2 linked regions of the Homo sapiens genome follow. The protein of the gene in region 2 purifies or fractionates together with the protein of the main gene of each other region. This does not show direct contact. Each region holds a gene or a part of one and is shown on either strand. Other genes may lie near its edges.

Region 1 (3,500 bases), on a different chromosome or scaffold from region 2:
TCTTCCCCTGAGACAGGGTCTCACTCTTTCACCCAGGCTGGAGGGCAGTGGCACGATCTCAGCTCACTGGAACCTCTGCCTCCCTGGTTGAAGTGATTCTCCTGCCTCAGCCTCCTGAATAGCTGGGATTACAGGCATCCACCACCATGCCCAACTAATTTGCATTTTAAGAAATAGGGTTTCACCATGTTGGCCAGGCTGGTCTCGAACTCCTAATCTCAAGTAATCCACCCACCTTGGCTTCCCAAAGTGGTGGGATTACAGGTGTGAGCCACCGTGCCGGGCCAAAAATAAACTCTTGAATGGATGTTCTGTAAAACATTTACACTTCCTTTAAACAGGTATTTCCAAGTATGTGGATTTTTGTTTATTTGGTTTTGAGGGAAGGTCTTACTATGTTGCTCAGGTTGGAGTGCAGTGGCGCATCAGCTCACTGTAGCCTCAAACTCCTGGGCTCAGGCGATCCTCCCACCTCAGCCTCCTGAGTAGCTGGGACTACAGGCATGCACCACTGTGCCTGGCTCATTTTCTTGTTTGTTGAGATGGGGTCTCACTGTGTTGCCCAGGCTTGTCTTGAACTCCTGGGCTCAACTGATCTTCCCACCTCAGCCTCCCAAAGTGCTGGGATTACAGACATGAGCCACTGTGTTCAACCCAAATATGATTTTTGTGGTAGGATATGCCATTAGTTAGTGTTGTTAGTAAGAGGCTTTTCTCTGTGTATCTTCACTCCATTTGAGAAGAGTAAAACATAGAACTGTGCCATAAGTTTCTGAACTTAGAATAGTAAAGAAGTAACAAGCCAGTCTTGGCCTGGCCCAGTGATGCGCACCTGTAGGCCCAGCTACTTGGAAGGCAGAGGTGGGAGGATTGCTTGAGCCCAGGAGTTTGAGGCCAGCCTGGGCAATATAGACACCTTGTCTCTCAGCAGACAACAACCCAGTCTTAGCTGGTGCCTCACTTAAACTCTGCAATCCTTGCTACCCCAGCCCCATCAAAGTTAATATGTGTGTGTATTGTCCAGCAGTGACAGGAAGAATAAAGGAAATAGAAATGAAGAGGTAGAATGATCAGGATTTTGCAGTTGGTTGAGTGTGCAGGATAAAGATGGTAAACTCAGATGATCAAGTTTCGTATATGGACAGGAGACTTGTAGAGGTTAGGTTTTGGAACCTAAATTCCTGGATTCAAATCCCATCTCTACAGCTTGGTAGTTGTTTGTTCCTGGGCAGTGTTTTTTAACCTCTGAGCCTCAGTTTGCTATGTATAACATGGGAATAATTTAGTACCCACTTCGTTAGGTTATTGCAGGGCTTAAGAGAGATTCCACATAAAGCACTTAGCATAGTGCCTGAATGTTTTTCATTAATTATTAATAGCGAGGCCATTTTTTAAATTAGAGAACAAATAAGGAGGGCAGAAGTGGGAGATGTTAAAGAAGGTGATTGTCATTTAGAGGAGCTGAGTTTAAAGTAGCCAAGGGCAGTACTCAGAAGACAGGACTACTGGCCTGGCCTGGCCTGGCCTGGCCTGGAAAGGGTTATTGCAGAAGGATGATCCTGGATCCACTATGTAGCTTTGCATTCATTCTCTGAAACTGCTTCCTAGATGGCTTCAAAGCTCTCAAAGCTCCACTAGTTTGAACCTGTAAAATGTTTGATTAACTGAGACAACTTGGGTTGCTTACCTTTAGCTCTAGAGTGTAGCTGACTCACTGGAAAGTTTTTGTGCTTTTTCAACCACTGGCGCCAGGGCTGATGCCTGTGTTTGTGTGTGTTGTTCACTGCTCTATGGTGCCTGGGCCAGGGGGAATGAGGTAAAATCCTGCTGTTGTCTTCACTCCAAGCCTTGTGCACTTGGCTGCAACTGAATGGGCTGGCAGCATTTCTGCCTTGGGAATGTTTATCTGCTCCCTCCATGGGTGGGGCTTAGTGTTGAGAGTCAAGCCACTGAAGAAGTTGCCTGTGGCCAGCCTGACTCCATGTGGTCAGTGTAATTTTCTATTATAAGGATTGCATCCTGGGGTTACTTAAATTCTTTTTTTTTTTTTTTTTTCTTGTTGCAGATCATCAATGCTGTGGTACTGTTGATTTTATTGAGTGCCCTGGCTGATCCGGATCAGTATAACTTTTCAAGTTCTGAACTGGGAGGTGACTTTGAGTTCATGGATGATGCCAGTAAGTAGTAGATATTTGGGTATTTTCAAGGGCAGGGAATCTGACTGCCAGCACTTCCTATTAAATTACAAATATAGACTCGTGAGTTCATTTGAGCTGATATATAACTTGTCATTGCAAATCAACGAATATTTGTGTGCGTCTAACATTCTGTCTTCTAGGTGCAAGAGTCTAAATAAGATCTATTTTCATCTTATGTTAACTTACCCACTTAAAAATGATTGCATTATCATAGACTTTCTACCCTGGGCCTTTTGGCCTTTTTTGAGAGGAAGGGGTATAAATGCCAGGAAGGAAGGTGAAAAGGCTTGTGCTTATCTCCTTGTGTCTTCTATTATGTTTCAGTATTTATTTTTATTCTAGGAGTGATCCTTTTCCATTCTAGAAATGATGTTGCAGATTATTTGGGGGAATTTAGGGCCTTTTCCCAGTGAATGGAAATATGTACAGGGATGTGGATGTGGGGTAAGCAGGGAGGAAGCTAGGCTCCCAGCTTGAAGATCACTGCAGCCTCATCATTTTATAATCATTATGCCGAGTCCATGCCAAAGGAGAGGAGTAGTGCTGTGCATAATCTCCAGCAGAAGATAGTACAGATTTATTTCTCATTGGCTTCGGAGAACTTCAAGTGAGTTTTTCTTAAAAAGTGTTGGAGCAAAGTAAGAGAGGAGAGAGTGGCTCAACATGCAGTTTTAGAGATCGGAAGCATTCGAAAGACATGGTGAGGGCTCTTTGTTTCTCCAAGTAAGAAAAAGCTGTTCAGTGGTTTTAACTAAATGCATGAACTGATATATGCATTTAAGATCCCTTTTGCTGCTGAGTAGGGTACTGGGTGTGTGAGCACAGAGCCTGGGAGAGTGGTATTGGGGATACCACCTAGGCTGCACTGGGGATAGAGAACAGGGAAGGATTTGGCAACTTGCTGTTTTGGGCAGCGAAGGAGACGGAGGAATCAAAGATGACTTCTGCTTTCCAGTTTTAGGAGATGACCTGCATCTTAACTGAGCTGAGAAAGTCCGGAGTCAGGAGGTGGGAACAGACCTGGGGGAGAAAAATAGACTTTAATTTCAGTAACTAGCTGAGCACAGTTGTTTGGAATTGATATGGTTTGGCTGTGTCCCCACCCAAATCTCGAATTGTATCTCCTAGAATTCCCCTGTATTGTGGGAGGGACCCAGGGGGAGGTAATTGAATTGTGGGAGCTGCTCTTTCCCTTGCTATTCTTGTGATAGTGAGTAAGTCTCATGAGATTGAGGCCGAGGCTGGCAGATCAGCTGAGGCCAGGAGTTCGAGACCAGCCTGGCCAAGGTGACAATACCTCAT
Region 2 (3,500 bases):
AGGAATGAACCCTAACTTTCAGCGTGTTTTGAGGACTAACTGAGATAATGAATATAGAATCACTTAGCAAAGTTCCTTCTGTGTAAATTATTGAGCAATATAATTCCATGTGATTTAGAAAAAATGAATAATGACATTAATTCTCATCAACCCCAAAGAGAAACACAGTTAAGTCTTTACCAATAAGAAACTGATTTGCACAAAACAAAAAAACAAAAGGCCTAAAGAGAACACGGCCTTGTGGCAAAAAAGACAACCTGATAAAGGATCAGTGTCTTAGGTGTGTGTGCTTTATAATTAACAAAAAATGTTCATATACACTGTTTTATCATGATACAACATCTCTATGATTGCTGGGTAGGGAGAACAGATAGAATCTTGCCTGTTTTTGCCAATGAAGAAATTGAAGCCAAAGATTCTAAGAGAATGGCCTAACAACATATAACTAGTTATTACTAATTTAGGATTCAGAACTGGGTCTTCTGACTCCTCTGCTAGCATTTATTTCCACTTTACCTTACTGATGATCTAAATAAAAAAAAAACTAGACATTGAAGAAATATAAAAATATCCTATTATAATATTCTAGCCCTGTGAAATTTAAATCATTGTTTATTGAGCAAGTAAGACTAATTCTGCATTCTAAATTGAAAAGTATTTATATTTCCAAAATATTTTTAGTATGGGCAACATAGTGAGATCTCATCTCTATAATTTTTTTTTTTAATTAGCCAGATATGGTGGCACTTGTCTGTAGTCCCAGCTACTTCGGAGACTGAGGTGAGAGGGTTGTCTGAACCCAGAGGTTGAAGTTGCAGTGAGCCAAGATTGCACCACTGCAGTCCAGGCTGGGCAACAAAGCAAGACCTTGTCTTAAAATTTTTTTAAAAAAATTTTATGCTATTTTTAATTGACAAATCATAATTGCATTACACTTACGGAATACAATGTGATGTTTATGTATACACACACATACACACAAAATGTGGAGTGATCAGAGCAAGCTAATTAACATATCTATCTCCTCACTTGACACCTTTTGAGGTGACACATTTGAAATTTACTCTTGGCTGGGTGTGGTGGCCCATGCCTGTGATCCCAGCACTTTTGCAGGCTGAGGCAGGAGGATTGCTTGAGGCCAGGAGACCAGGCTGGGACACGTAGCGAGACCCTGTCTCTAGAAAAAATAAAAAAAATTAGTCAGGTGTGATGGTGCATGCTTGTAGTCCTAGCTACTTGGGAGACTGAGGCAGGAGGATTGCTTGAGCCCAGGAGGTAGAGGTTATGACGAGCTATGATTGCACCACTGCACTCCATCCTGGGTGACAGAATGAGAACCTGTCTCTTAAAAAGGAAAAAAAATGAAAAAAGGAATTAAATGTACTGTTAGTTACAAACTTTTAAAATATTTTTAACACCTAGTATTTATATGTTGCCTCGCCATTTTAAATTTTAATTACCTATGTTAGAAAAAGACAGAAGAAGTATGAAAAAAAATTGCTGTCACTATCTCAGTAGCCTGATGGTTTTTCTTCACATTCCTCAGGTATTCTTTTCTGTATTAATTGGGGCTTTTAGTGTTGGACAGGCATCTCCAAGCATTGAAGCATTTGCAAATGCAAGAGGAGCAGCTTATGAAATCTTCAAGATAATTGATAATGTAAGTCTGAGTTGGCCATCTATCCACCTATCTAAAAGATTGTCCAGTTAAGTCAATTTCTTTGTCACTTTATCCAGCTCTCCACAAAATATCACTAAAAGTAGTTATTGTAACCTAGTAATCTCTTAAAATTTGATTCTGTTTAGAAGCCAAGTATTGACAGCTATTCGAAGAGTGGGCACAAACCAGATAATATTAAGGGAAATTTGGAATTCAGAAATGTTCACTTCAGTTACCCATCTCGAAAAGAAGTTAAGGTACAGTGATAAATGATTAATCAACAATTAATCTATTGAATGAAGAGTTTCTGATGTTTTCTTGTAGAGATTATAAAAAAGTGCATGTATATTTAAACCTAGTGAACAGTCAGTTCCTATATCCTGTGTCTGTGAATTGCCTTGAAGTTTTTTTCTCACTCGTCCTGGTAGATCTTGAAGGGTCTGAACCTGAAGGTGCAGAGTGGGCAGACGGTGGCCCTGGTTGGAAACAGTGGCTGTGGGAAGAGCACAACAGTCCAGCTGATGCAGAGGCTCTATGACCCCACAGAGGGGATGGTGAGATGACCCATGCGAGCTAGACCCTGCGGTGATCAGCAGTCACATTGCACATCTTTCTGATGTTGCCCTTTCAATTACAAATGTATGAAAGTCACACTTACTTTTTATTCCAGGTCAGTGTTGATGGACAGGATATTAGGACCATAAATGTAAGGTTTCTACGGGAAATCATTGGTGTGGTGAGTCAGGAACCTGTATTGTTTGCCACCACGATAGCTGAAAACATTCGCTATGGCCGTGAAAATGTCACCATGGATGAGATTGAGAAAGCTGTCAAGGAAGCCAATGCCTATGACTTTATCATGAAACTGCCTCATGTAAGTTGTCCTTGCCCTTTGCCTTTCTAGAGGTGCAAAAAATAAAATGCAGGCCTACTATGCAGGAAGTTAGGAAACTACTATAAATCGGAAGAAGGGAAATCCTAAGAAGGGAAAGTAAGATTACTTCAGATTTGAAAGCTCTAGCAGTATCAACTGGTCGTAGATACATTTTTAAAAACTGAGGTTGGTTATTGTGTTAAATAAGATTTAAAGAACTGGACCTGTATTACTTGTGAGACTTGGGCTGTGTATAGGATTCCTTACCAATTTAAAATATGAGCTGAGATAGCTTGTCCTTATGCTAAATCATTCTGGGTTTTCTGTGGTAGAAATTTGACACCCTGGTTGGAGAGAGAGGGGCCCAGTTGAGTGGTGGGCAGAAGCAGAGGATCGCCATTGCACGTGCCCTGGTTCGCAACCCCAAGATCCTCCTGCTGGATGAGGCCACGTCAGCCTTGGACACAGAAAGCGAAGCAGTGGTTCAGGTGGCTCTGGATAAGGTCAGTGAGGCTTAGTTCAAACCAACCTGATTTATAAGCATAAGAACATTCTACTACTAATTCTTGTTAATATTGGTCTTAGAAAAGGAAATTTCTGATAGCTTCTAGGTGATTCCTTCAGCTATTAAAATAAAAGCATTGGGCCTCTTTGAAATCTTTTTCTATTTGTTTGTTTTATTGTTCAATTTCTATTTATTTCTCTGATCTTATTTTAAATGTTGATGAATACATTTTCATTTGAAGACACTTGCTAATCTTTTAAATTAAAAAATAGAAATATAGACACATGTGAAAGTTCATCTTCATTGTGATCTTCAAAACTTGACTATGTGGATAACCCTGTTATTTAGGTTTTGAGAGTTTGTAATATTGCCAAGAAGAGAAAAATACAACCTGAAGGTCCATATATAATTTTCCAGGTGTTGAATGCCACTTGAAGACTCTATGCGAAATAAGAAACCTC

What was found.
Region 1: the proteins of ABCB1 (region 2) and LAPTM4B purify together in Homo sapiens (co-immunoprecipitation; one study listed by IntAct). This does not show direct contact.

What each region holds. Positions count from the first base shown.
Region 1 is NC_000008.11:97,803,288-97,806,787, forward strand, and holds part of LAPTM4B (lysosomal-associated transmembrane protein 4B), read left to right. Parts: intron 1-2,065; coding exon 2,066-2,177; intron 2,178-3,500. UniProt on the Homo sapiens protein: Required for optimal lysosomal function. Blocks EGF-stimulated EGFR intraluminal sorting and degradation.
Region 2 is NC_000007.14:87,548,885-87,552,384, reverse strand, and holds part of ABCB1 (ATP-dependent translocase ABCB1), read left to right. Parts: intron 1-1,546; coding exon 1,547-1,660; intron 1,661-1,806; coding exon 1,807-1,917; intron 1,918-2,088; coding exon 2,089-2,214; intron 2,215-2,330; coding exon 2,331-2,534; intron 2,535-2,866; coding exon 2,867-3,037; intron 3,038-3,500. UniProt on the Homo sapiens protein: Translocates drugs and phospholipids across the membrane. Catalyzes the flop of phospholipids from the cytoplasmic to the exoplasmic leaflet of the apical membrane.